3 separate regions of the Homo sapiens genome follow, and all the other regions are linked to region 1. The links come from fine-mapping of genetic effects on gene expression. A gene starts in region 1. Each other region holds a variant in brackets. All regions are shown on one strand. Distances are from middle to middle. Region 1 holds the start of LINC02015 (long intergenic non-protein coding RNA 2015). Region 2 overlaps LINC00578 (long intergenic non-protein coding RNA 578). Region 3 has its middle 9.6 kb from the start of LINC02015.

What was found. PIP is the estimated chance that this variant, and not a neighbour inherited with it, causes the effect. A credible set is the group of variants that fine-mapping cannot tell apart.
Region 2: its variant is the best candidate, but not a certain one, in a credible set for the expression of LINC02015 in cartilage (Steinberg 2020, PIP 0.67).
Region 3: its variant is the best candidate, but not a certain one, in a credible set for the expression of LINC02015 in fibroblasts (GTEx, PIP 0.77).

Annotation. Positions count from the first base shown.
Region 1 is chr3:177,812,858-177,823,029 of GRCh38, reverse strand. It overlaps LINC02015 (long intergenic non-protein coding RNA 2015), which reads right to left and starts at 6,165. Exons shown (of 3, transcript NR_110826.1): 1 at 6,034-6,165.
Region 2 is chr3:177,452,134-177,462,305 of GRCh38, reverse strand. All of the region lies in intron 1 of LINC00578 (long intergenic non-protein coding RNA 578), which reads right to left. Among named protein-coding and RNA genes, the nearest start is that of LINC00578, 15 kb to the right of the region's middle. RefSeq lists an enhancer at 4,208-5,407 and a silencer at 9,639-9,839. The variant G/C (reference allele first, on the strand shown) is at 5,474.
Region 3 is chr3:177,802,212-177,812,383 of GRCh38, reverse strand. No RefSeq gene overlaps it. Among named protein-coding and RNA genes, the nearest start is that of LINC02015, 9.6 kb to the left of the region's middle. The variant C/A (reference allele first, on the strand shown) is at 4,987.

The sequences.
Region 1 (10,172 bases):
TGTTTTCAGCTGTTACTGTGCATGTCTATTGCAGTTTGCATTTGGAAAGTATTTTTATAATTATTTTGCTGACTCTGGTGATAACCTTCTAAATTAAGATTCAGCCTCAGTAATGGATGTTTTGACCCCACTTGCCAAGTCCACAAGCAGGAAATGAGTGAAGACCTCTGGTTGGAAAAGAACCTTTCTGTGTGTTTCTGGCAAGTAAACTGTCATCACATTTAATTGAGATTTGAGAAATGGGTAGCAAAACAGCAGTGAATGATGGCATTTGCAAATTAGTTGAAGCCAAGTGAATTTTTGCCTAGAGTGTTCCGACTGAAAAAATAAATATAAGGAAAATCGATGTTAGCAGAGAGAATCTTTCTTGTTTCCCTACTGATTTTCCATGAAGTAAAGTGCACATATTTGATTCAGCTTAGAAATCACTATCTTTTTTTTTTTTTTTTTGGCCCCCTTTAAGGGAATCTGTAAAATTTCAGATGAGATGTTGTAGTGGAAACAATCTTTGAACTTACTGTACTGATCAAATTAATGACTCAACCTGTATCTTCCCCTACTCAGCCCCTAATATAGATTTTTCTTTTCCAAGGAATGATTTCAAATGTTTCTAAAGAGTGAAAAAAAAGCTTTTCAATTTTCCTCCCTTTCCACTGTGATACGGACTAAATCATCAATATCTATTTCTGCCAGTAATTCACACTCACGGTTATCAATGAGCTTATGCCAAGCTCTGTTCTCAGCACATTCTTGTTGTGCTGTTATAAAATTTAAGTATGTGAGGTCAGTGCAAAAGTAACAAACAGTGAAAGAATGTTACCTAACAAATGCTTTATTCTAAACATAATCATCTATAATATATATGTCTAGAAATCTGTAATAAGACAGTTCTGTCTATCCCCAGTGCAAATGTTTAGATTAGTTAGATTTTTAGAAAATTTGCCATATAGTTAATATTAATCTTTGATTATATTAATATTAATATAGTTAATGTTTGAGAGAACATTTCATATTTTCCAGATAACTCAGTAATGTTTTGGCTTTATAATTACTTTAAATCAGCCATATGGAAAGATGATTAAGAACCTGTTTGTCTTTTCACATTTACATATACATACAGAATATGTATACATATATAAAAGTTAAAATTTTCTCTGATCATTCTCTAGATCAGTAAGTTACAGTAAATATTAAGCTTCACAAAGTAATGGGATTTTTTTCTATATCTAATTTGTTCTCGAGTCCAATGATAAATAAGGAAAGAGATGATAATCCTTGTCATAAAGGACAATTGATCTTTTCTTCTTTCTTTTTTTCTTTTTCTGAGACAGAGTCTCGCTCTGTTGCCCAGGCTGGAGTGCAGTGGTGCGATCTCAGCTCACTGCAAGCTCCGCCTTCCAGGTTCACGCCATTCTCCTGCCTCAGCCTCCCGAGTAGCTGGGACTACAGGCGCCCACCACCACGCCTGGCTAATTGTTTTTTTTGTTTTTGTTTTTGTTTTTGTTTTTGTATTTTTTAGTAGAGGCGGGGTTTCACCATATTAGCCAGGATGGTCTCAATCTCCTGACCTCGTGATCCACCCGCCTCGGCCTCCCAAAGTGCTGGGATTACAGGCGTGAGCCACCACGCCCGGCCTCTTCTTTCTTTCTTTCATCTTTCTAGCTTTCTTTCTTCTTTTCAAGGTCTGTGGCTAGATACTAGAATTTTAGAATCAACATTTCCACTATGATTCTATTTAACTTTCCAGCTTTTACACTGGATAAGTCTCTTTATAAAATCAAAGGTGTTCTCATTTAAAATTAAGTTTATTTCCAATGCTGACATAAAAGGTCTCACAATTTTCATTGCTATTTTCAGCCATGGAGCTGCAATAAACCCTTCTAAGTTTGTGTGCATAACAGGTATGGAATATAGTCATCTCCCCTACCATGAACAAAACAGGAAAAGAAAAAAGGGTTTCAGGAAAAAAAAAAAAAGAAACATGTCTCATTTTTAGAGGTCAAAAGTCATTTTCATCCCCTGAAAATGCTTTGAAAGTGGTCCAGACCTCAAATTACCATAATTTTCACCTACCCCTATGTAAGAAAAGGGAAGTAAAAGCAAAAGGAATCATAAACATCTCGGTGCAGGACGTTCTTACTTTCTGTAGAATCTTTGTGGTTTCCAATCCCTGCATGACTTCCCAGCACTTCTGCATCACTCTTCCCCTTATTCTTCTCTAATATGTTTCACATTGATTTTTTTTTTCAATTCTCTGCTGACTGCACATTCTGAAAATGCTTTGACCTTAAAGTCAAGATCAAGTTTGCATTCCTGGAGTAAACAAGAAAGAAAGATGGAGAAGAGAACTTAAAAGAAAACCATTTGACCAAGAAAAACTATGGAGCAAAATATGTATCCTAAGAAAAGGGAGAAAACAGTGTCTTTCTTCTGAGGTTTCTCTTTTTTTCTAAATTTGGCATTCAAGGTGAAGAATATTAATATAAACTACCAATGAAAGAAGAGAAAATTTTCCTCAAGTACTATTTGTATGGAGACTAGTCTGGCATTAACCATTGCTATCACCATGTAGAATAACAGATCTGTTAGAATGAAACTTCTAACCATACTGTTATACTCAGGTAGTGTACTGGAAAAGCAAGAACCATACATTACGGCTCCAAGAAAAATAGAAACAAATTAATGCTGGAAAAATATGTGTAAAAACCCACAAGTTTGAATAATCTTCTAAAATTGTTTTAGGTTTTATAAAGACTTTATCTCTGTCTCAGGGCCCAGCTACAGTAAACTGACAGTTAACTGCTTAAAAAGAAAGTACATCTTGAAACGTTCATAACTTTTCATTTATAACAAAGGCAGAAAAACAATCACATTTATAAGAAGATATTTTTTCTTTTTATATCCTACTCTGAAGCAAAATTCTGACACAACTAGCAGAAGGTACTTTAAGACTCCAATGTGACACATTAAATGTGGACATCCAATGCAAGATTAACTCAGTTGAGTATCTGGGAGAACTTTGTGGTTTTTGTTTGTTTGTTTGTTTGTTTGTTTTACGAAGTCCCTCCACTGAAATACTGTGTCTTTGCAAAAGCCTTTTCATGATCCAAGTTTTAATTTAATGTGATATTATCCAGGAAGCAGTTTCAGTAATAGGTTTGTGTTCACATGGACAACCTGGTTTGGCTTAGACGTTTGTCATAGAGTATGTGGTAGATCTCTATCCATTGGAAGCATGCTTTTACTTGGATTAGAAACCTACATAGGATATTTGGTGAATAGTATTGGTGCTTACCTGACATTCATTGCCTCTTCTTTCTTTTTTTAATAGAATCTAATTTTGTCCACATATCCATCTTTCCTTCTCATAGTCATGAACCTCAACTCCAGGGGTAGTCTCATTGGAATATAGATTTACTCGTTGGTCTCTATTTCCCTTGCAGTAATTAATTCAGGAATGGACATGTGATCTAACTGTGGACAATGAGACAGGGGGAGAGGCTGTCAGAAAAATTTGAGAAAAAGAGAGAAGCGGCCAGGTGCAGTGGCTCATGCCTGTAATCCCAGCACTTTGGAAGGCCAAGGCGGGAGGATCACTTGAGGTCAGGAGTTCAAGACCAGGCTGGCCAATATGGTGAAACCCCGTCTCTACTAAAATACAAAAAATTAGCCAGGCGTGGCGGCATGTTCCTGTAATCCCAGCTACTTGGGAGGCTGAGGCAGGAGAATTGCTTGAACCCAGTGGGTGGAGGTTGCAGTGAGCTGAGATTGCACCACTGCACTCCAGCCTGGGCGACAGAGAGAGATTCCTTCTCAAAAAAAAAAAAAAAAAAAAAGAGTGAGAGAGAGAAAGAGAAGCCTGAGAAGTGACTCTTTCTTCTCCTGGGTATTATTGCCCATAAGTATACTGCTTAGATCTGGCATAGCCTTCTTGCTACCATTCTAAAGAGGAAACTAGCTCAAAAGATAGCAGAGTGAAGAAATATTTTGTGTAAAAACCTAAATGTCATTGAGTCACAGTATCAACCAGCCATGAGATTCACCCTACGTGAGTCTTAGCTATGGGAGAAGTTACTATTGTCATTTTAGATACTTGGCCTCTGGGATTCTATTCTTTGCAGCCAGTAGCAGGCTAACCAATTTCTCTTGGCTTCCTTCAATTGTATCCACCTTCCTGGCTTAGGCCTTTCAGAAGAAGACAGAGTCCTAAGCCAATGTGTTTACCCTTGATTTTAACTTGAAACTTTCTGCCATTAACATGGGGAACAAGATAAATTTATAGAAATAAAAATAATATGATTTAACAATACCAAAACATTAATATCTGAAATGTATCTTGGAGGGATTGCTTCATGTGCCTGGCAGTGTTGTCAGCGTCAGGCTGCCGAGTAGAGATGTGAACGACAAAGCATTTAAATGATCTGTGTTGTCATTTTTGCAACACGAGCTCACACAGATGATGGTCGATTTAATAAATCAAATTGGACAAAAAAAAATTCAGTCTCTCTCCACAACCTTTCTCAAAACTACCGTCAGAGTTTTCTTCTCCCCTCAACGACCTCTTGGGCAGATCCACGACTTTCTGTTTACTTTCAAGTACTATAGAACTTATTTTCAGGAATCAAAAAACTCTAACCCAATCAGATACCAAAACTTCAATTTATTCTTGAAATCAATGTTTTTCCTCCCCAGCTCAAGTGCATTTGTGTCTTTCTTTGTTGTCAAATGCCCTGTGTAGGACAGATGTTCCAAGAAGTCTTTTTCATGAAGTACCTCTGTTAATTCTTTGGAGACCCTTTCAGGGACTCATACATTTAACATTTCCTGATGCATTCAAAACACTCTCTCGTTAATCTTTTGTAAGAACCTTGACTCCTGTACCAGAAGGTGCTTGGGATTCCTTCATTCCAGCATGCACCCCTCTTGCTGTGAAATGGTGGGAGGCCCTTCAAATAACTTGCACTAACTTGCACAGTGCTACTTGTCCTGCAGGAAAATGAACACATCCTCCCCCATCATGTTCTCAAACTTCAAGCACTGCTGCCTTTTGGCCTCACTCTGTCATGCTGCGCATCTTCAGCCACCTCATACCTGTGATTTCTCCTGCAGAGTCAGGCACCAGGCCCTGTGCTGCCCACATTCAAGCACTGCCTGGCTAAACACTGAAGCCATTAACCACATGTGTCCATTGAACACTTGAAATGTGCCAGTCCAAATTGAGATCTCAAAGCTTTAGTATTAAAACACACACACACACACACACACACGCACACACAGAGCAAGATGTCTCATCACTAATTTTTATATCAACCACGTGATAATATTTTGGATATATTGGCTTAAATAAAATGTATTAGTAAAATTAATCACCCATTTCCTTTCCCTGTTTTTTAAATAGGCTACTAAAAAATAAATTACATGTGTGGCTCACATCATATTTCTATCGGCCTGCACTTCTCTAGAGCCTTGGACACAAAGAATGCCCCCGACCAGAGCACTGGCATCGCCCAGGAGCCTCTTAGTAGCAGAGAGCTTGGACTGGCAGTAGTGCTCAGAATTGTCATTTTAACCAGATCTCTGGGTGAAGTTCTGATGTAGGATAGAGGTACTTATTCTGAGGTCTCAGCACTCATGTTGATTCTTAACAGTCTGTTACCAGTTCATGACAAAATAAGTGCAGGAATTAAGAGTACTGTTCAGAAATTTTTATAGCAATTTGATGTTACAATACAGAGTATGTAACCTCTGAACATTGTTTCCATTTCATTTTTCTAAAAATTCAGTTCTAGTAAATCTATAAACCTGTCACTCCATGATGGACTGGAAATTGAAACAGGTTGGTCCTTTATCACAGAAAGTTTGCAAAGTCCTGCTCTAGAGGGCACCCTTCAAACTCTCTGAGGAAATTTCTCGAACTCTGTAAGATGGCAGTATTCCCCACTAGTGAGCCTCTCTGTCCTCACCACCTTTGCTCCAGAGGGTTTTCTCTCAATTTCCTCTCTTGGATCAAGACGAAGTCACATAGCAGCTTACCCTTCCGTGCCAAAGTGCTCTCTTTTCCTACAATTTTCTTCCCGGCTGTTAAATGTGTTCTTTGGAGTGACAATATTTGATGATTGGCCAACACCTTAACACATCCTGTGGGGAACATGTCTAAGTACCTTTCTTCAGAATGTGCAATGCAATTGTCACAGGTTACCCTCAGTTTTGGACGTTAGCCCAAATTCCAAAGCAATGAGAAAGTTCCCAGTCTGTATCCAATCAAGGCAAAGACTCCCAGCTTCTCTGGGGAACTTATTTTGGGCTCTGGCATTTTCTGTTTTGTCTTTTCCCCCGTCAAAACACTCCTCCAATTTCCCCACATGAGTTGAAGTAGTCTTGGCAATCAATCCTAATTTGAAAGTTTTAACTGGAATAATATGTAATCTTTCTTAAATATTATACTCTAGGCTTCTTCTACATTTTAAGGAAAATCTTGTAGACGTGCCCAACACATTCTATTAAGATATAGATATACATAAGTTAGTGCATATCACGTATTCCTTGTATGGGAATTTAAACCTCTTTTTTAGTCAATTTAATGTCCACAAGCAGTTCACCATTTAATCTTATGGCTTATTTTGTATAAAGAAAGTCTTCTTCATTAAATGAAGAACCGCTTTCTAATTCTCAATTTTAACAACATAATCACAGATTTCCTTGCACCAAATTTATTTAAAGAAAAACACACCTGAGTTTTCAGTTTATACCCACATTAGTATTTTATTAATAGTTTGAATGTTAAGTGGCAACCACATTCCAAAAACCCTGAAAAATTCATAATTTCTTTATGGTTTTTAAGAGCTTTGCTTCTTGCCATGATACTTTCAATAGATTTATAAGTGTAAGCAATTCATTTTTTTTTAAAGAAAGTAATGGATATTTATTGATTTCTTAATATGCACTAGGCACCCTATTATAATGTACTCTTTTGTACTAAATCTACAAAAATGAATAAAACATGTCCTTCCCTTGTGTAACTCAAGAGTCTGGGTGATGAGACAGACTCCTACACAGAAAATACAACACAATATCAGGGGTTATAAGACAGTATTTTGTGCAGGATTCTGTGGGGGTAGAAGGAAGGGGCCCTTAACTCCTAAGGAGATTAGGGAAAAGCTTCCTGGGGAAGATGATGCCTGGAACTAGAACTAGAGGGAATCATAGCAGGTTTTTCAAGTTAAAAAAAAAAAAGTTTGCAAAACATTCAAGGCAGTGGGTACTGCATGATTAAATATTCAAAGGCATGAAACAGTCTAAAAGTTTTAGAGCTAAGTAGGTTAAAATGAGGCCGGAGAACAGAGAGAAACCAGGTGATGGAGACCCTGAATGTTACACCTAGGAGCATGAACGTGACTCAACAGGTGTTGCAGGCTGTGAAAGTGGTTCAAGCTTCTAACGCCATAGTTGCCCATTAGTTTCTCTTCTGGTCTAATTTTGCAATTATTTACATAGAAGATCTTTAATATAAACCTTTGTTGAGTTCAAGGCCACATATAAAAATCAGAGAGAATGATAGCGTCAGTGAAACAAGCAATATATAAAAGAAGCAGGAACACTCTCTAGCTTCCTTCATGAGTAAGAATAATTGCCTTAACTGTTTTTGGCACTAAGTCCGTTTTCATATGGCATTCTATTTTCTAGAGTGACTTTGTGACATAGATTAGGCAGATATCATTTTTTCCACTACAGTTGAGAAAGTTGCCACCAAGAGAGAGAAAGTCAGAACAGTAGTAAATGGCAGAAGAAGAAGATGGAACCAGGTCTTTAAGCTGCAGATGCTTTGCTCTTCTCTTTCACTAGGAAATGGAATCTATGTTAATGAAATTCCTTGCCAAATTTAAGAGGTAATTGTTGATAACGAATGCCATAGGTAACATTACCCTGACACACACGTTTTGTAAATTTGTCTAAACTAAGTTTGCTATGTATATGATACTATTAATAATGATTAAAAACTAATAATTTATTGAGCACCAGAAAGTGACTATTTTTCTTCCTTTGTTAGTGTTTTCTTCTACAAATTTTCTTCTAAGAATGGTTTTAGCTACATCTCACAAATATTGATATTTTGTGCTTTTATTATCATTTAGTTCAAAATATTTTCTGACTTCTCTTATAAGTACTTCTTTGATCTATGGGTTATTTGGAAGTGTGTTGTTAATTTCCAAATATATGAAAGTTTCCTTGAGATCATTTTGTTATTGATTCCTAATTCAGTTATACTGCGGTCAGGGAACATACTCTGTAAGATTTTAGTCTTTTCAAATTGATTGAGATTCCTATTAAGGTCCGGAATATGATCTAGGTGAATAGTCCATGAGTACTGGAAGGAATGTGCACTCTGCAATTATCAGGTACAGTGTTCTGTCAATAGTGATTAGGTTCAGGCAGTTGGTGATGTTCAGATATTCTGTATATATAGTCTTCCTCAATTTTTTGTCTGCTTATTCTGTCAATGAGCAGACAAAATTACTGAGAGATTTCTAGAACATCTAACTGAAATTCTAGATTTATATGTATTTTCCTAAAGTTATGCCAGATTTTTACTTCAGGAATTATGAAGTTCTTTTATTTGATGCCTACACATTTAAGAGTTTTATGCCTTACTGATAAATTGGGCCTTTTATTATTCTGAAAGTATCCTCTTTACCTCTGGTAATGATCTTGGTCTGACAATCCACTTTGTCTGATATTAATATAGCCAGGCCAGCTTTCTTATGTTTACTTTTGGCATGGGTTATCTTTTGCCATACTTTTAGTTTTAGTCCATGCTATTGCCCTTACTTGCAGCACCCACTGGGGATGTAGAGAGTTGGAAAGAGTGCTGCTCCATCTTTAATGCAGAAACAACAGCAACGAAGGACATATGTATCATTTCCAATGCTATTTACTCCATTCCACCGTCCTAATTTCATTTTCTTCAGGTGGAAGAACTTCCCTGAGTACTTCTTACAGCTTAATTCTGCTGGTGACAAATTCTCTCACCTTTTGCTTTGTGAAAATGTCCGGTAATGCGGGTCCACTAAAGATGAATTCTGAATTCTCTCAACTTCTGCTTATGTGAAAATGTCTCCACGGCACCTTTAGATTTTATTTTTATTTTTTAATGACAATAAGGAAATAATACATGTGTCAGGTAATGGATGTGCTAAATACCCTGATTTGATTTTACACAATGTACACATGTATCAAAGAGTCACACTGTACCCCATAAATATGTACAATTTCACCTTTATTTTTGAAGGATATTATATTAGTTTCCCATTGCTACCATAAAAAATGACCACAAATTTAACGCCTCAAAACAGCAAAAATTTATTATTGTACAGTTCAGAAATCCAACCTGGGTCTCACTGGGCTAAAATCAATGCGTCAGCAGAGCTGTGTTCTTTCTGGGAGCTCTAGGACAGAATCCATTTCCTTGTCTTTTCAAGCTTCTAGAGGCCACCTGCATTCCTTGGCTCATGGCCATCCTCAAAGCCAACAATGTCACATCTCTCTGACCTTTCTTACATAGTCACGTCTCCCTCTGGCCACAGCTGGGAAAGATTCTCTTCTTTTAAATACCCATGTGATTGTACTTGGCCCACCAAGATAATTCAGAATAAATATATCCATCCCAAAGTCTGCAACCTTAATCACATCTGCAAAAGTCCCCTTTGTCATGTAAGGTAACATATTCACAGGTTCTGGGGATGAGACTATGGTGGACATTTTGAGGGGAGGGGAGGGGGCCATTATTCTGCCTATCACAATATTTAATCAGAGTATAAAATTTAAAGTCACAGATTTTTCCCCTCCTTTCAACACTTTTAAAGTGTTATTTCATTGTATTTAAGTCCCCACTGTCTGAGAAAGCAGCTATCTTTTGTAACACTGCTCTTTCGTACTAATAATTACTTTTCTCTTTAACTTTGGTTTCCAGGAGCTTGAATATGTTATGCCTAGGTGTGGTTTTACTTGTAGCTATCCTTGTGTTCAGCCTCTTGGATTTGTAAGTTGATATGTCCTTTGAAATGTAGGTATTTTTTGGTTTCTACTTCTCAGATACATTTTCTACTCAGTTCTCGTTTGCCCCTTTCTCTGGGATTTCAAATCCACATATCTTGCACCAGTCAATATTGAGACCA
Region 2 (10,172 bases), 360 kb after region 1:
TAGAGAATCGGTTTAAAATTCTCTGCAAACTCAGAAACATGTAGCGATTTTGTTTTCTTTCTCTAACAACATTCCCTGGGAGGAAAGCAGAAAGATAGCCACATAAATGTGTACTGCAATTCTTCTGAGTTATCACAAAACAGCACAATATCAAAACAGTTCACGGATAAAAGTGTATGTGTATAAATGCACCCAGCCATATCTTATTATAAGGGAGTATCACACTCAGGATTCCTGACTCTGAATGTGATTAATTATCTCCAGAGACAAAAAAGCGTAACACATAATTTAAATTTTATGTGAATTTAGCAATAGACATTAAATCTTTAAGAAGCACGCATACCTTGTAACCCAGCAATTCTGTTTCTGGCAATTTGCCCTAAGACAAGAATTTGGAAATGTTTAGAGATTTAGCCATATTAGTTTTTATTCAAACATTGTGAAAAATTGCAAGAGACTGAAAAATACCAAGTAATCCATTCATAGGGAATTAGAGAAATTAATGACCTATTCATACAATGGGATTCTATTTGAAAAAAAAATCACATTAGAGAATAATACTTGCACTATTTTTAAGTGAAAAAAATTAGGTTGCAAAATGACGTATATATAGAGTGGTCCAATGGTCCAATTTTAAGTGAAAAGAATTAGGTTGCAAAATGACGTATATATAGAATGGTATGTGTATACTTAAATGTACATAGGTATACACACGAGTGAACTGGAAGAACAGACATCATAATGTTAATAGTGTGTATCTCTGGGTTGTAGCATTATACATGAGTTTCACTTTCTCTTTTTTGCTTATTTTTATTTTGGGAGTTCTCCACCATAAACATATATTTATGTAATTCGAAAGAAACAAGAACGAATATTTTGTAAACATACAGGAAAGTGTTCTAAGAAAACATCTAATCCAAATTCCTCATGTTGCAGAGGAGGAAACTGAGGCCCAGGCAGTGCTATAGCTTGCCCGAGGTCCCACAGTTAGCAAATGACAAAATTAGCACCCTACGCCCAGGGCAGGGTTCTTTCCACCAGACCATTCAATCCCCACCATGGGTATTGTGTTTTAAAAGTCCAGCTAGCTGGGCACGGTGTCTCACGCCTGTAATCCCAGCACTTTGGGAGGCTGAGGAAGGTGGATCACCTGAGGTCAAGAGTTTGAGACCAGCCTGGCCAACATGGTGAAACCCCATCTCTACTAAAAATACAAAAAATTAGCTGGACATGGTGGAGGGCACCTGTAATCCCAAATAGCTGGGCTGAGGCAGGAGAATTGCTTGAACCTGGGAGTCGGAGGTTGCAGTGAGCTGAGATTGCATCATTGCACTCCAGCCTGGGCAACAAGAGCAAACCTCCGTCTCGAAAAAAAAAGTCCAGCTAACTTCATTTAACTCTGCATTTGGAAAGGATCATTTTAAAACAGCACATTCATATACGAGAATGATAGCAAACAGAAAAACACCCTTGAATTTCATCTCATGCTTGGGTTTCGGTGCTTTACAAAAATAGTGTTGGCATTACCTCCTGGCATTGTATTATAGGATGGGATTTATTATGAAACTGGGACCAAATTTTTCAGTTTGGAACAATTAATAAGCATAACATAGGTTTAGAATTAGTGAAGTCATATTTTTGCAGCTGCTGTAGAATTCTTCCACAGCTTAATTTGCTACCTTTGTGATTTTAACAAATGAAAAGATGTATGTTCATTTATAATAATTGGCTATATGCTTCCACTAGATTACAAAAATTTGATGATTTTCAGGAATCATAACAAACCATGACCTATAAATTCAATTTCCAATGGTAAAAATCCCCTGACCAGAGTGGATGCTGATGACGAACTAATAATGTGTTCTGTAACAATCTGTTTTGAGCACTCAATTGACCTGTAAGTGTTCCAGATACTGCCTGATGAAAATGGGTTTTATTATTTTCCATTAGCAGCTGCTACAGCAAAGTGAACGGCCAGTCCACAAGGGAAATAAAAGTGTTTCCCTCTTCTCAGTCGCCTCTGCTGCAAACGTAAACAAAACTACCTTCTTCCTTCCCCTCCTCCCACCTCTGAAATCTCTACATTCAAGGACCACGACTGGCGAATCCTGCCTGAGTATGTGGCATCTAATTAAAACACAATGGGGCATCTACTATGTGTTCAGCATTTTGCTGAAGTGGTGCAAGGGTGAACGGAGACCTCGCACAGGGAAGCAAATCACTGGAAAAAGTGGTTCCTGCATTCAAAAATGTCATTAGACTTGCCAATTGGTTCTTTTCATTAAAATAACAATAATAGTTTCTTTTACCGTTGTAGTGGTCTGCTTTATTCTTCTTGTTTCTTGCATTTATAAAAAGTTATTCAGTGCTGTTTTTTCTTCTACACAAGTCTTCTTTCCACTTTTGGCATTTGCATCCTGTAAAATTATGCTCTTTTTGGCAAATATATACATGCATAAGGGAGGGGGGCGTCCACAACCATTTAAAGAAATTATTTCTCCAAGGATTTTTTCCATTTCCTCCCAGAGAGACAGAGAAAAATCTCACCAAGGTGTCATACAAAAACAAACAAAAAAACCCTCCATATACTCCTCCTCTTCTGGTATTTTTCTTCCTGCCTGCTAAATGAAGGCTTGACCCAATGTTCCTTTCCCTGCCCTCTCCTCTCTCACTGCTGTCTACTGTCTCCCTGGATGATCTCATCTAATTCCACAGCTTCAACACTCACATAGTACATGTGATTCCTAAATCCCTCTCTCATCACAATCTCTTTTCCCAGCTCCTAGTCTGCATTCTCAGCTGTCTGCCAATCCTCTCCACCCAGACGAATCCAGGATACCCCAAGCCGAGAAGTCCAAAGCCAAAATCTGTGTGTTCACCTGTGTTTCCCTGTTTCTGTTCAAGGTACCATTATCTTCCCAGTCTAGATCAGACAGGCAGACATCTTTACCTCTCTCTTCTCTCATGCCCTTTACTCAAACCCATCAATTCTCTCTGCTCTTCATTGATATCTTTCCCTTTCTTTCCATCTTCTCTCCCACTGTCCTAGTTAAAGCCTATTATACTCATTTGGACTTTTACCACAACCTCCTAACTTTCCTACTTTAAGTCTTTGTCTACTCTAATTCATTTTATACATTACTGACAGATTAGCACAAATGCTAAAGTGTAGTTCTGACCATGCCTTCCCACCACTCGCAAGCTGTCCACATCCACTGCTTACTTACAAAAGAAAGTACAAACTTAGAGAAGGCCTTCCATGGTTTGGTTGCTACTGACTTTGTTAGCCTTACTGCCCACTATGCATTGGAACATTCCCATATTCCAACTAAGCAGGAGTGTTCACAATAAACAACATAGGCTCTTTATTCTCCTTCTTTCACTAATTTTCTTTCACGTTATTCCCTCACCCTGAACGCCCTTCTTCCTTCGTAGTGACATTTTAAAATCCACTTTACACATTCGGACCAGCTCAGATATCATTTGATGCCTGTGACAGCTTCTCTGTTACTTGTACACTTTTTGAACTTTCATACTGTACCAGTGAATTAATTCTGACTTCAAGTGATACTACTCACTTCACATAAAGTAGAAGGACCTGACACTGGTACATCTACCTCCATTTCTTCCTTCCCAACCTTTGTCCTATTTTGTCATGCATTTGACCAAATACACATTATAAATCCCACAATACATGATTATTAATTTCGCTGTAACCATTTCGATCATCTGTTAAAGACACCAAAATAAGAAAAAAACAAGTCTTTACATTTACTCACAGTCTTAGTTTTGCGTGGCTATAACAGAATACCTGAGATTGAGTAGTTTATAAATAAAAGAGGTTTATTTAGCTCATAGTTCTATAGGCTGAGGAGTTGAAGGGCATGGCCCTGGCTTCTGGCAAGGTCTTTTATGCTGCATAATAACATGGCAGAGAAGGTCAAAAGAGATGCCAACATGTGGAAAGAGACAAAACCAGAGGGGTGTCCTGGCTTTATAACAACACACTCTCATGGGAAACTAATCCATTTCCATGAGAACTAATCCAGTCAGTCTTGTCAGAACCAGAGCTCACTTACAACCATGAGAATGGAACCAAGCCACTCCCAAGGAATCCACCCCCATAACCCAAACACTTCCCACTGGGCGCCACTTCCCAGCACCACCACATGGGGATCAAATTTCAACATGAGTTTCATTGGGGACAAACAAACTATATCCAAACCATAGCACCCACATATTTCAATTTCTAATGCATTTAATCTGCACTAATTTTACACCACCACTGAGGCAAATCCCTCCAAATACTCTATCAAAAGCCCCATGAATTATGATGTTTTCTAGTCTGGCCAGCAGGAACAGGAATAATATCAGCCCTGTGAGAACTTTGAAGATGATTTCTTCTGCTTCTTTCAGCTAGTTCTTTCTCCTGCCTGAAGATATTTTTCTCACAAGCATGCACTGATTGGTATTCAGCTGAAGACTCAAGGAGGACCCTTGGCAGGTCTCCAGAGTCCTCTCTCTGTACAACTCTCTCCTTTACAGCAACCTACCTGCAAATTCTAGCTGCTCTTGGAAGTAAATGCTCTGTGCTGCCAAATGAAAATAGCACTCGGGCAAAAGTTTTCTCAGCAAGGCAATTTGCTTCTATAGAAAGGTACGTCTCATGGATGGAGCAATGGCAAGAGCACACCAGACAAGGGAGGGGAAGGAAGGCCTTATTCCTAATGCAGCTAGTCCCTACTGCTGTGTCTTTCCCCTATTGGCTAGTATTGGACCACGCAGTCTAAGCTAATTCTGACTGGCTATTTTAAAGAGAGTGAGGGTACAAGCCAGAGTGGCAGGGTGAGTAGTTTTGGTGGGAGGGATGGTTACAGAGCAGGTGACTAAGGATGACTGAGGACAGAGCAGGTGACTAAGGATGACTGAGGACAGAGCAGGTGATAGAGGCTAAAAGGGAGTTGTTTACTGAAACTAGGGGCAAGGAGATGTAAAGAATGAGGAAGTCAAACTTTAAAATGGAAAATGAAGTACAGGGAAGCTGAACATACTGCCACATTGGTTCTTTGGAGAGGGACTCAGAACTCATTGTACTTAACAATTTTCTCCCTCTCGAATTTTAAGGGAAGTTAACAGGCTAAACTTTGAAGAGGAATTTACTGTATCCTACATTGCCTTGGCCTCCTCAACTCAAGATAATTGCCAGGCTCTCCCTAGGTTCCCTCTCCCTCTCATGGCCCGGAAACTCTCTCCAGGGAGTAAGTTGGGATAATCACAAAACTCAGTCATCTCATTTGTTGCCCGTCTCTCAGGGAACACTGAAGTCTAAAGTCTTGAAAACTGTTTTGTCTTGTTTTATTTTGTTTTCATATATTGGATCCATCTTTTCAGTTGTTTCAAGCAAGAGGGTAAATTCAATTCATGTTGTTCCCTCTTGGCTAGCAGGTGAAGTTTTGTAAAATCACAAATTTAA[G/C]GATCCCTTTCAACCCCCCTTACTTGGAAGAAGTTTCTGAACCAGTTGGACCCAATTGACAATTTCAAAGAAGATCCAGGTGCCAGAAACAAGTAGCATACCTCATAGGTAGTGCCAAAACAAGGCCTAATCCTATCTGGGGATTCCACGGTTAAGTTCTCAGTGGCAATTTTTCTCCAAAAAAAATAGTACATAGCTAAAAGTAAAGAACTTTTGGAGACATATCCAGAACAGAGCTTTGAGCACCCAAATCTATGAGATTCCTTTGTATGATCTGAGAACTTGAAGACTCATTTCCTTCACTACAATGAACATTTACATACTAATTAGTTTTTTCAAATCACTCTTTCAAACATGTATATAAGAGGCTATCATACCTGTGATACATCTATTTTCCAATAAACTGGAATCCAGGAAAAAAAATGATATTCTATATATAGGGCCTATACAATGAAAGAAAATCTTCCTTCATTCCTTTACTAATTCTTTTACTTTCTTCTTTTTATCTTTACACTTTAGTTTCCTTTCTTGTCCAAAATTTCTAATTCCCTAACTTTTTCCCCAAGCATGCCTGGGGTTGTTATAGCCAGACAGTAGCATTCACAAATACACCCTCTCAGATTCTATCCCTGTCTCTCCGCACTTATCCTGTACTAAGCCAGCTTTGTAGACATCAAAAGATATATTCTTCAGTGAATGAATCAAGGAAAGAAAGAACTGAATTTTTTATTTCTGCTTAAATGAAAGAGGTAAATTCACCTGAACTGGGAGGAGGCTTATCTGTAGGAATCTTCTAATCTTTTCTAAACATAGAAACAGAACAAAGAGAAAATGTAGGCCAGTTTTACATTAGAATGGAGGATTGGTGGAAAAATTGGGGCTGAGAAACAGACATCAGAAATATTTCCATTTTGAGTTTTACAAAAATAGACTGAAATTATATCTGATAAATGATGGTGGATCCACAATTGATCACTTACTTAAGTTGGTGTCTGCCACATTATGGCCCCCGTACTCTGGTTCACAGATATGAATTAGAGAAATTCTCATTTAGTATTAAATAACACTGGATTACATAGTGAGATAGTTATTCCCTTTTAATTCTCTTCCTATTCTCTGATTACATCAAGATGAGAGAATTGGTTGTTGGTAGTATATCTTAACTTCTCCAACACTTGCTGATCTTTTTTATGCAGAGAAAAAGAAGTCTAGAACATTAGGCAGAAAAAAATTCAGCTAGAATGTTAAGTTTTTTTAATATTATTTGAATTTATTTAATGATTTTTTTTTTTTTTTTTTGAGACAGAGTCTCACTCTGTCACCCAGGCTTGAGTGCAGTGTTGTGATCTTGGCTCACTGCAACCTCTGCCTCCTGGGTTCAAGCGATTCTCCTGCCTCAGCCTCCAGCCTCCTGGGTTCAAGTGATTCTCCTGCCTCAGCCTCCTGAGTGGCTGGGATTACAGGCACACGCCACCACACCTGGCTAATTTTTGTTTTTTTTTTTTAGTCCAGATGGTGCTTCACCACATTGGTCAGGCTGGTCTCAAACTCCTGACCTCAATTGATCCGCCCACCTCAGCCTCCCAAAGTACTGGGATTATAGGTGTGAGCCACCACACCTGGCCTATTTTATGATTATTTTATATTTATGGCAAGAAATATTCCTTTTTCAACCCTTTATATTTGATGATATGAAGACTTTTTATTCATATTTATAAAATGTGTTAATTTAAAGATAATTAAATTTAAAGATAATTATCTCAATTTCCTGAAATGCCAATATACTGTGTAATTTCAATCAATTAATGACATAGGTGGGTTTCCCTGGAGGCAGGCACTGAGACAGAGCTGAGGGTCAGGAAGTTCATTAAGAATCAACACCCATGAAGGGAAGAAAGAGGAAGGAAGATGGCTGCAGTGCAAGCCGGACAAAATATCCGGTAGAATTTAGGGAGCACTGGAACAAGTATTACCCATCAAACTCAAAACTCTATTCCATCAAACTGTCCCACAGTGGGCCCCGTGGCCAGGCCTTTTCACCCATGGCTCATCTGGTCCACAGATGCTGGCTCCCTTAGGAAGGGCGATACCTCAGTCACAGCAACTCTCCTGCTGGGACAGAGCCTGAAGATGCTGACAGCTGGCAGTGGGGCTGCCTCCGCTCCCCGCAGCTGAACTCAAAGTCCTTCCTTGAAAGGCTATCTGGGCAGCATGTGTACATGTCCCCCACAGTTGATCAACCAAATGTCTTTTTTCAAATCATTCTTTGAATCTCAGTTTCCTCATCTGTAAGTGGGGTTGATCTGGATTTGTAGATCTCAATCGGTATTTCAAAAAAGATACACTTTGTCCTCCAGAAACACTGGATTATGGCTTCTCTTTCTACATATAATTTTTAACCTTTTAAAACTGTAACTGCCAGCTGCAGTGGCTCATGCCTGTAATCCCAGCACTTTGGGAGGCCAAGGCGGGCAAATCACGAGGTCAAGAGATCAAGAACATCCTGGCCAATATGGTGAAACCCCGTCTCTACTAAAAATACAAAAATTAGCCAGGCGTGGTGGTGCACGCCAATAGTCCCAGCTACTCTGGAGGCTGAGGCAGGAGAATTGCTTGAACCCAGGAGGCGGAGGTTGCAGTAAGCCAAGATCGTGCCACTGCACTCCAGCCTGGGTGACAGAGTGAGACTCCATCTCAAAAAAAAAAAAAACAAACTATAACATATCGGCCAGGCAATCCCAGCACTTTGGGAGACCAAGGCGGGTGTATCACTTGAGCCCAGGAGTTCAAGACCAGCCTAGCCAACATGGTGAAAACTCATCTCTACTAAAAATACAAAAATTAGCCAGGCGTGGTGACGCACACCTGTATGTCAGCTACTCAGGAGGCTGAGGCAGGAGAATCACTTGAACCCAGGAGGCTGGAGGCTGAGACAGGATAATCGCTTGAACCCAGGAGGCAGAGGTTGCAGTGAGCCAAGATCACACTACTACACTCCAGCCTGGGCAACAGAGCAAGACTCTGTCTCAAAATAAATAAATAAATACACGCTGTGCACATGTACCCTAGAACTTAAAGTATCATAATAATAAAAGAAAGAAGGAAAGAAAGAAAGAGAGAGAGAAAGAGAAAGAGAGAGAGAGAGGAAGAGAGGAAGGAAGGAAGGAAGGAAGGAAGGAAGGAAGGAAGGAAGGAAGGAAGGGAGAGAGAAAATTTTGGTTAAATAGGAAAAATAAATTCAAGAAATCTATTGCGCACAAAAAAAGAAAATAAATAAATAAATAAAACTATAACATATCAGTTATACATCAAATGTACTACATACCAAATTCTAAGACATTGGAGACAAGCAACACATTACTCTAGCACCTCATTAATCAACTGATAAAATAAGTGGGTGCTGTACAAATAACATGCAATTTTTAACCAGTTTGACAGGTTTCAAACCCAATTGAAAACTCCTGAAAACCATTCTCTCTCATCTACTGCTTTCATGCTGTGAATCTCGGAAAAAAGAACCATGATAGAGACTTTGAGTGCACAAAGCCACAGGCTCCCGCCATCTTAACGAGAAGACAAGGTATAAATGTTAAGAAAGATTAATAGCAGGAAAACAGAGCCAATGGAGGCGTGCTAATTATAACTCCCTTATGGCTTCAGAAAAGGGATGAAGGGTTTTACAGATGAGGAGCTTGAAACTGGAAAAAGCTGAGTAACCTGCCCAAAGTTAACATATGCTAAGTGTTAAAATTCAGATTCTATACCAGTTCTCTTGCTTGCCGGCACCCATACACTATACTACCCCCAGACTCCAACATGTCCACTGTCGGTTGCACAATGCCAGATGGTTTCAACTTTTAGACTCTCCAGATATTTATAAGTGATAGTTGTGTGGACTACACAGTTCAAGTGGCACAGTATTGATGCTCTGAGGAATTTTAAATTTTTTGTCTGAGTTTTTGGGGGTGATGGTGGTGATGTTCTTTTGTTGTTCTTAATGTCTGGGTTTAGGTGTGGGCCTCTGATTGTGGAGGAATCATATTTCTGCATAAAGTATATTCATTCAAAGGAACTCCTTTCTCTATCCAATTGCTTAATAATATGTCTTGAATAATAGCATTACCTCAGGACTGAAAATGACATCACCCCAGGCTTACCAGGCTCTTCTGAGTCAGGAATGAAGGTCTGAGAACTAGGAGTGAGGAGAACATGTTTCCACTAGAAAGCCACTGCAGTGGCTCTGCATTCAAACTAACTTGATCAGTGCCACACTTCTGTTTGCTACTACTGCGCTGAGAATTTCAAGGCAAAATCACAGTATGTTTATAGAGAGAAAAAAGAGGAAGGAAGGAAGGAAGGAAGGAAGGAAGGAAGGAAGGGAGGGAGGGAGGGAGGGAGGGGAAAGAAAGGGAGGGAGGAAAGGAAGGAGGGAGTGAAGGAGGGAGAGGAAAGGAAAGAAAGAAAAGGAAAGTGAGAGAAAAGATAAAGTCCTATTCAAGATTTCAGAGTGAAAGGGAAAATCCCTAGGATCACAGCCAGTTGTCATGGGAGAAATTTTTCTTCCTGATCTATTTTTGGCAGTCAGTTCAACTTCATGCATCATTGTTTTACTTATGGCATGTACAGTAGCCAGAGAGAAACCCATAATATCTTTTCTGTCTGGTGGAAATCTTATATTCCTATGCACAGTGACAAATGG
Region 3 (10,172 bases), 11 kb after region 1:
TTTTATCTTCTTTTTATTCCAAGGCAAAAGATATTTTTACAAAAATCTCTCATAAACAAATTTAGAGACAACCACAATATTGACACATCTCATCTATAATTTTGTTCCACCAACCGAGCAAAGTATCTGTACTTCTTACTGTAACCAAAAAGACAAATAGATAAAATTCAGTGCTCACATTTCAGATAGCTTACAGATGCAGTAAAAAAAAAAATTACAGAAAGAAATCAACAATATAAAGTGAATTTATCCAATTTACCAAACACCATTACCCTTTCCAGCTACTGTGACCTCTGACTCAACATGCAATTGTTAGGCATCTATTTTTCACAAACCACAATGCTAGGGGCTGTACCTTGTATGTGACTGGATTCTGCCATAGCCAGAGAACAGTCTTTAAAAACAAATCTTAGTTTGGACACTGGTTTCACTGTAACCTAGGAATTTAACCTCCTTGGGCTTTCACTTTTAGCTCTCGTAATATCAGCCTAAACATAACTACCCTGTATGGTTGTGTAAAGTTAAATGCAATAACTTCACACCAGCACCCCCTTTCTACCCACAATCCCCTAGAAGTTATGATTAGGATAATTATCTTCAGTCTGTTACCTATTGAGTTCTAGCATTCCTCTTAAGTGGCTCTTGGGATGGCAGAAGATATAGACACTGTTTAAACCTTTTATCTCTTTATTGTATTCTGGGTTGACACAAATTTTTTAAAAATAGATTCCAGCCTTTTATTTATGTATTTATTTATTGGAAAAGACATTTAAGCTAAGTGCAGTGGAGCACACTTGTAGTCCCAGCTACTCAGGTAAGTGAGGCAGAAGGATCACTTGAGCCCAGGAGTTAGTTGAAAGGTAGCCTGGGCAACATAGTGAGATGCCATCTCAAAAAAGAAAAGGAAAGAAAGGAAATTTCCTACTTTTCTCACTATTATTCATGTCTCTCTAGAAGCAAATACTTGTAGAAAAGTTAGAGATAAGGGATAATAATCTTCTTCCTCTTCGCCTCCGTTTCAGTCTCTCTCACCTCTTTTCTTCATGGATGAGTGAGCTCACAATTCTCCCTTCAACATAGATACTTTACAGGAGCAAAATGAGGAAGTAAAAATTACTACAAGAAGAAAGTACGAGATCAGGCCATATTATCCAGCATTAACAAAAAAGTTTAACACATTTCTATGGCCTGTGATATCTTTAAATATGTCCATAGACATCATTTTGGGTGAACTCTACAGCCAATTTGACTATGAAAAAATGAAGAAAGAATGATTATCTCCATTAAACAAATAGGGAAGCTGAGGTTTCATGGGACCTAAAGAAAAGAGAAAATAGAGGAGAGAAGGCATCTTGCTTTCTAGCAATTGACATCCTGTTTTTGGCCTATCCACCAAAATATATGCCAATCAATTGAAGCATTATTAATGCATTACCAACATCAGGAAAATGCTAGAAATATGTATGTCGGATGAGTGTTTCTCGTTGGATTTTAAATATTTATCATTAGACTGCAGTATATATAGGTTCTTCGTTTCATCTCTCCAGAATGAGAATTATTCACAATAAACTTAAGCTTTAAATTCTTATTTAAACAATTGAGTACCCCCCCAACAGTATTTGTTGACACTTCTCTTGAGCTATTTTCTTTCTACTTCTCCGTGTAACTCATAGCCTATTAAGAAAAATAAATTTGAGCCAAAATCCTCAATTTAACAAAACAGGGAAAGAATTAAAATTATATCGTTCAAAACAACAATGATCAAGCAACAAAGAACCCTCAGTCAGAGTTCAGAGGATGTTTATGCACTAAGAGGAAACGCTGTCTTTGGCATGAAGAGGGGTTATTGAAATGATCTAATTTCAGACAAGGTACATAACTGAAGTTGTAGTCCAAGTTTATTGTAGTTCAGTATCTTTTTAATTAGGTAATTTTAAGTTTATAGTTTTGAATCATCAGGGAAAAAAATTGCAACATAGTCTGTTTAGAGTCAAGGCATGCTGCTGACACATTCAAAAAGTCCCGAACCTTCATAAATAAACACTGCCAATGTTTATTTCAAAACATCTGAGAACAAGGAAAGAAGAGATTCTCTGAATGCTTCAGATTGGAACTGTTTGTGCTGAGTCATCTTTATCTGTAGATCCCTTCTGAGATACAGTGGAGTGTGTTCAGTACCTACCAAATGCACAGATACGAATAATTATGGAAGGAGAATCTCATTACAAAACTTTTTTTCTACCTAAAACACTGCCAAAAAAATCTGGAAAAATAATTTTCTCTATAACTAGGTAAAATGGTTTTTATTTTCAGGGCTCTTAGAAATAACTTTTTCGAAGAGAAAACTTATATAAATTGAATCTGGAATCTTGTTTCTTCATTTCTCTTACATTTGGTGGGGAGGTTTTTGTTTGTTTGTTTTTTGTTTGTTTGTTTTAGACTTACCATGACTTTATAAATTGAGTCTATAAGGCTAGCTTCTGAGGTTATTTCTCTCTACCTCGTAGAAACTGATTCAGTGGTTTTCACCAAGTAAATGGTGGGGATATTTTGACTTCACTGGCCAAACCACTGGACAATACCTTAGCCTTGCTAAAGGGAAAATAGCAAACAATTTTCTGTTAGTATGTGTTATTCCACAGGAAAAGATTATGAAAGCTGTAACTTTTGTCATTCTATAGCTAGTGTACAGTCTCACAAATATTATTAGTATTACCTCTCAGAGTTTAATTAAATATTATGTTCATGTCCAGGAATAAACAGAAAATAACATTGTACACATCCTGAAATTTTCCTTTTAATAAGCTGTCCAAAGGTATATGCATTGTTCTCAGAGGTCGGGACTTGAAAGCAGCTTATGTGATTTTCTCTCATTTCCTTCATGCAATTCAGCATTCCAGAAACATTTATTATCAATTAGTATTGAGAGGTGACAGCGTGCTGTCAGCCCTCGCAGCCCTCGCTCGCTCTGGGCACCTCCTCGGCCTTGGCGCCCACTCTGGTCGCACTTGAGGAGCCCTTCAGCCTGCCGCTGCACTGTGGGAGCCCCTTTCTGGACTGGCCAAGGCCTGAGCCGGCTCCCTCAGCTTGCCGGGAGGTGTGGAGGGAGAGGCGTGGGTGGGAACCAGGCTGCCCAGGGCACTTGCGGGCCAGCCGAGTTCCGGGTGGGCATGGGCTCCGCGGGCCCCACACTCAGAGTGGCCGGCCAATCCCGCTGGCCCCGGGCAGTGAGGGGCTTAGCACCTGGGCCAGCAGCTGCTGTGCTCGATTTCTCACCGGGCCTTAGCCGCCTCCCCACAAGCAGGGCTAGGGACCCGCAGCCTGCCATGCCTGAGTCTCTCCCTCCTCCCCCCGCCCCCGCCCCCACCCCCGTGCCCAGAGGAGCACCGCCCCCTGCTCCACGGTGCCGGGTCCCATCGACCGCCCAAGGGCTGAGGAGTGCGGGTGCATGGCTGGCAGGCAGCTCCACCTGCAGCCCCGGTGCAAGATCCACTGGGTGAGGCCAGCTGGGCTCCTGAGTCTAGTGGGGACTTGGAGAACCTTTGTGTCTAGCTAAGGGATTGTGAGTGCACCAATCAGCACTCTGCCTAGCTCAAGGTTTGTCACACCAATCAGCACCCTGTGTCTAGCTCAGGGTTTGTGGATGCACCAGTTGGCACTCTATCTAGCTAATCTGGTGGGCACTTGGAGAATCTTTATGTCTAGCTAAGGGATTGTGAATGCACCAGTTGGCACTCTGTGTCTAGCTCAAGGTTTGTAAATGCACCAATCAGTGCTCTGTGTCTAGCTAATCTGGTGGGGACTTGGAGAATCTTTGTGTCTAGCTAAGGGATTGTGAATGCACCAATTGGCACTCTGTATCTAGCTCAAGGTTTGTAAATGCACCAATCAGCACTCTGTCTAGCTTAGGGTTTGTAAATACGCCAATCGGCACTCTGTATCTAGCTCATCTAGTGGGGAGGTGGAGAACTTTTGTGTCTAGCTCATGGATTGTAAACACACCAATCAGCACCCTGTCAAAATGGACCAATCAGCTCTCTGTAAAACAGACCAATTGGCTCTCTGTAAAATGGACCAATCAGCAGTATGTGGGTGAGGCCGGATAAGAGAATAAAAGCAGGCTGCCTGAGCCAGCAGTGGCAACCCTAGGGCCCTGTCCCATTCCAGACTGTGGAAGCTTTGTTATTCGTTCTTTGCAATAAATCTTGCTACTGCTCAGTCGTTGGGTCCACACTGCCTTTACAAGCTGTAACACTCACCATGAAGGTCTGCAGCTTCACTCCTGAAGCCAGCGAGACCACGAACCCACTGGGAGGAATGAACAACTCCAGACGCGCCACATTAAGAGCTGTAACACTCACCGCGAAGGTCTGCAGCTTCACTCCTGAGCCAGCGAGACCATGAACCCACCAGAAGAAACAAACTCCGGACACATCCGAACATCAGAAGGAATAAACTCCAGACACACCGCCTTTAAGAACTGTAACACTCACCGCGAGGGTTCGCGACTTCATTCTTGAAGTCAGTGAGACCAAGAACCCACCAATTCTGGACTCAGTATGTTATAGACCCCATACCAGGCCCCGGGAGTGGAGAATGGGCTATGATCACTGCCAGCAAGATTGCCATTATCTAGCAGATAGAAACAGGTTTGTAAAGAAAAAGTTAAGTATGTGTGATAAATCCATAAGATACAATGAGGATTCAAAGGAAAGACATTTTTGGAATGTGCTAGTAGAATCGTTGACTCTTAAGTAGAGTAGGCTGGATTTTTTCTTGATTCTTCAAATAAATGTATTCTTCTATGACATTCTCAAAAAGACTAAGTTGAAAATAATTTTAAAATATGAAACTGGAACAAATATTAAAATTTTAGTGTTAACTCATACTCTAAAAGCAGATCATTTGTTAACTCTATTTTATGCAAAATAACACACCTCTTAGAAGAGATACATTTATAAAGTGTCTTTCATTTTTATAGCACAG[C/A]GTGTTCCATTTAGGGCCAGTCTCGCAAGTTAGAGTTGGGAAATTTTCCCATAAGAATGACACATAGCTATGTCAAGGAGTTTGAAGACAAGCGTGTTTGCAATAGCACCCACGTAGAGAGAACAGAGTGATCAAAAATCAAAGGATCAAAAAAAGAACGCTCAGTTCAAATAACTGCAAATTAAATCTTCCTTTTTGCCAGTTAAGGTTCTTCACACCAGATTCTACCTTTTTGTGAATAGATTTCGCTTGTGTTTTCATTTTCTTATGTTATCACAATTCATGGCTGAAGGAAAATTCACGGCATGGCATCCCTCTTCAGATGTTGATAAAAAAAATCTGCAGACTTGAAACTTTTTTTTCTGTCTAAACAGAATTCTTTTTTCCCTTTGAGTCCTTTCATGCTCAGCTCCTTATCTGAGTTCAGTAGCAGGCATATTTCCTTAAGGGCATCAAAATGTACACTTTTCTCACTAATTAGGCATTTTAATAGCTAAAGCTAAGAAAAAAAACACTGAGAATACCAAGTGTTGGTGAGAACAGGAGCACCTGGAACTTTTTTCTGTTGCTGTTGGGAATATGTAACAATCCAACCACTTTGGAAGATTATTTGGCAGTCTCCTGAAGAATTAAACACACCCCATGGCTCACCAACTCCACTCTTTGATATGCAACTAAGAGAAATACATGCATGTGTCTATCTTAAAAATAAACAAAATGAAAATTTATGTTAAGAATATTTATAGAAGCTTTTTTATAGCCATAAACTAGAAAAAAAATTGAAAGTTTTTCTAGTCTTCACCAGAGTGAAGGGCTGCTGACAGTTCTCTAGTTCATCAATCGGAGAATGGATAAATACCATGTATATCTACACAATGAAATACTTTCAGCAATTTAGAAAGGGCAAATTACTAATACATCAATGTAGATGAACCTCAAAAATTCTGTGTTAAATAAAAGAAGGCAGAAAAAATACATACTGTATTATGTAATTATTTAGCTGAAGAATAAACAAAACTAATCTATGGAGATAGAAGTCAGAACAATGGTTTCCTCTGAGGTGGAATATTGCCTGGGAAGGGGCATGGTGAAGCTTTCTAAGTTGATGGAAATTATCTTAATCTTTATCTAGGAGTAATTACAAGAGGATGTAGATATGTTTGAAGTCAATCAGCTTATAAGTTAAGATTTGGGCATTTTACTGTAGTAAGTTATACTTCAAGAAAGGAGACTGCAAAATTCCTAAATATTTTTAAAGAGTCTAACTTTTATATTGGAGAACAGCAAAAAACATAAAGAAAATATGTGACTGAAGTTTTAATCAAAGAACGTAAAACTTCTCCATGTCTGGCAAATCCAATGAGTCAAGTAAAAAGGCCCAACTATGATTACTTCCTGCTTAAAAATGAATGGTTAAAAACTGAGAAAATAATCAGTGTAAACATGAGGATAACTGTTCAGTGAAAACCTTGACTGAATTTACAGATAAACTGGTCTGATTTTCAATCAGAGAAGCTAGCTACTTCAAGTATGTTAAGCAAAGTGGCCTAGGATATCCAAGAAGAAAAAGTTGGTGAACTTTGCACAATAATCTGAATTGGCGAGTAGTGGTACTCAGCTGTGACTGTAAACACCACAGAAGAGAAAGATTCATGGTATACAGAACTTCAAGGTCATCTGCGTCTACTTTGCGTGAAAGGGGAGTTGGTTGGGGTAAGAAGCCACACGTTTATGAGGAGAAACTAGTGGTTTGACTGGACCGTCAGAGCCCTTGAAGAAGAAAGACTGAATGGCTGGTGACAAGGAAGTCTGATCTCCCCATTAGATAAACTTTACTACTGATATGAAAGTCTGCATAGGGATTCCAGGGAAATTCTTTTTTTTTTTTTTTTTTTTTTAGACGGAGTTTTGCTCTTGTTGCCCAGGCTGGAGTGCAGTGGCGTGATCTCAACTCCCTACAACCTCCACCTCCCAGGTTCAAGCGATTCTCCTGCCTCAGTCTCCAAAGTAACTGGGATTACAGGTGCCTGCCACCACACTCGGCTATTTTTTGTATTTTTAGTACAGAGAGGATTTCACCATCTTGGCCAGGCTGGTCTTGAACTTCTGACCTCGTGATCCACCTGCCTGGGCCTCCCAAAGTGCTGGGATTACAGGCATGAGCCACCGCCCCGCTCCTGGCCTCCACGGAAATTCTAACATTTCATCTATGCCTCCCAATACAAAGATGTTCCCTGAAATATCAGGCCTATTGTCCTAGGCAACCACAGAAACCTTTCCCAATACCACCACCTCTTTTTTTTGTCATTTGACTCATGGGACTACAACCAGAAAGTCAAAAGGGGATCTTCCATGTCCGCGGGGTCTTAATTCAGACTTCTGGCGGCAACATTCTTCTGTCGCGTACAAAAACCACTGAAATAAAGGATCCTAGAGTCATAGAGGTGAGAAAAAAAAAAAAAAAGCCTTGGAAGTGGATGATTAGGTGTAGTCAGCAGACACATCACGCATTCTCCATTCATTGTTCCCAGATCTAGCCTTTCTAGCCAAGGGAGGAACCTAGGCAGTTCAGTCATAGGAATAATAGAAAATGACTAAGACTTGGTCAGTGGAAAACGCAACCAAGATCCCCGCTTCTACATCTCTCTTTCCTGCACCCTGCATTCCCATGCCACGGCATTTTAAAGCAGCCCTCTGTTACAACAGCCCCCTGCTCCCTGCTCTGCTCATATTCCCTCTGCTGAAATGTTCTTCCCCCAGATATCCATGTGGCTCATTTCTTCATTTCCTTGAGTCTTTGCTCAAATGTCACATTCCCAGGAAAGTCTGCCTTTACCACCTTACTTAAAAATTGCAAATCCCCTGGCCCCTGAACCCCCCCTCCACCAACTTAACACCCCGGGTCCGTTTTCCTCTGCTTCACTAGGTGTCACTAGCCCTTATCACATTGTAGCATACTACAGAATTCACTTATTTATGTATTTATGTTTATTTTCCATCTCCTTCCACTAGAAAGTAATCCCCATCTTCTTTTTTCACTCATGTATTCCTGGTCCCCATAACTGCAGCTGGGACTCAATCAATGCTCGCTAAATATTTGTTGAACTATTCCGCTGAATAAGTAAATAAATTCCACAGACTGAAAGCTATGAAGGTGCAGGGACTAATGTGTATTCATTTTTGTATTCCTTGCAATCAGTGTTGTACTTGGCACATGCTAGGCTCTCAAAAAATGCTTGTTGAATAAACGAATGGATGGAAAATTTAATCCCAAATTGAAATAGCTGAATGTATTTTTTCTACTGAAGTGGAGATTCCTGCACAGTATAGGTGGTAAATCAGAGGAAGGAGGAATGATACAGTAATAGTAACAGTAGCAATAACAACAACAACAACACTAATAATAGCCAGTTAGTGGTAATGTCTTATCTGTCAAGCCTGGGGTTTGATACATATTAGCCCCAGGCCCCACATTCACCCTGCAAGGAAGGTATTAATATTATTAACTTCATCTTATAGATGAAGGCATTAGGGATCAGAAGGTTTTAACAACTATTTAGGGTCAAATAGATGGTAAAGGCAGCTGGGATTTAAAACTGGAACTACTCCCGTTAAAGACAAAGCGCCATTTTGCATAATACACATTTTGCTCTTCAAATCTGGAAACCAAACAGTGTTTTTCTTCCCGTGACACATGTGCTGATGTGGCAGAAATAACAATTCTGGCAGCATTTACCACCCAGCATATTAAGGCATTTGGAAAAGAAGGTAGCCTCATGTGAAAGAGTTGCTGTCCTCAAAAACTGAACAACATAAACATAAATTGAGAACTAAGGGGAGTAGACCTCCCTGCGGTGGTTCAAGAAAAGTTTCCAAGAGGTAACAAATATGGAGGAAGTATTCAAATGTATATTAGAGATGAGGAAGAGAAAAGGCAGTATATCAGTAGAAACAGAAAAAAGTGGACTGAGCCTAGTAGAGAAAAAGAATAATTTATTAAGCTGATGTGCACTGTATATAAAATCATTCCTTCATACATTCAGCCATCCAACACCTACTGTGAAATTCCTATGTTCAAGGCACCTTTTTGGGTACTGAACATAAAGGAAAACAGTCATGAGGAAAATCCCTTCCCTCATGGAGCTTACATTAAAGGGGGGGAGGCAAAGACAGAAAAATAAAACGTAGGTATAATATAAAGTATATCACATGGGACTAATGCTAAATAGAAAAAGCAGAAAAAGGAGGTCAGGAATATTGGGGGTTGTAATTTAAATAGTGTGCCATGTTAATATCATTTGATGCTATCAAAGAAATTGATGCATTTGGGCAAAATTGTCAGACTTTTGTAAAACAATTCAACCTTGAGCTCTGTTTGGCTGCTCAAGATTTTCTCGTCCTTAAATCAAAGCTGGCAGTTCAAGGAGGTGATGTACTGTGCCTCTGTACTTGAAACCTCTTCACTGATTGCTCTCAGATGAGAATAATAGCAGAACGCCAGCCAATTTCTAGGCTGGTGAGAATCTTGGGGAAAGAGAGTTTTAAAAATATTGTGCCCCACGGAGTCACCACAGTTGGTGAAGAATAACAGTGGCTCGTTAGGCCAGCCAACATTCTAGCCTGACCACTAAGTGTCATTGTGGTCCCAGCACACAGACCTGGGTCAGGAAGAGAAAAGAAGAGGCATAAAATGCAGATCATGAGCAATGAGCTTCATCATATTTGATAGGTCATTTCTAGAGAATTACACCATTAAGGAACGTGGGAGTGCAGAGTAGCAGATGTACAGAACTTCAGAAAAACAGCTTGTGTAGTGCTTTAAAATTAGTTAGGAGCTTAATAAAAATTGACATCTATATGGACACTATCTCATGGTTGAAAAGCCAGCTGAAAGGTTGAATAGACTGTAAACGAATGAAAATAAATGGATAGCAAGTCATACTGGGAGGAGTTCAGGTTGGCATTTGAAGAGCTCTTATTTAGCATGAGAGCTTGGTGACTAAGCTATTACATTGGGATAAATAGATTGGGAATGAAATGTGCAAATGAACTAAGCTGGCAGGAATCATTGGAAAGGTAGGAAACCCTATACCAGGGAATTGTTTATATTCAGATTTAGAAAAGGGCTGCTTCTGAACATCTGTTTTCAGAATATATAGCAGCGTCATGTGGGCTGGAAAGTCAGG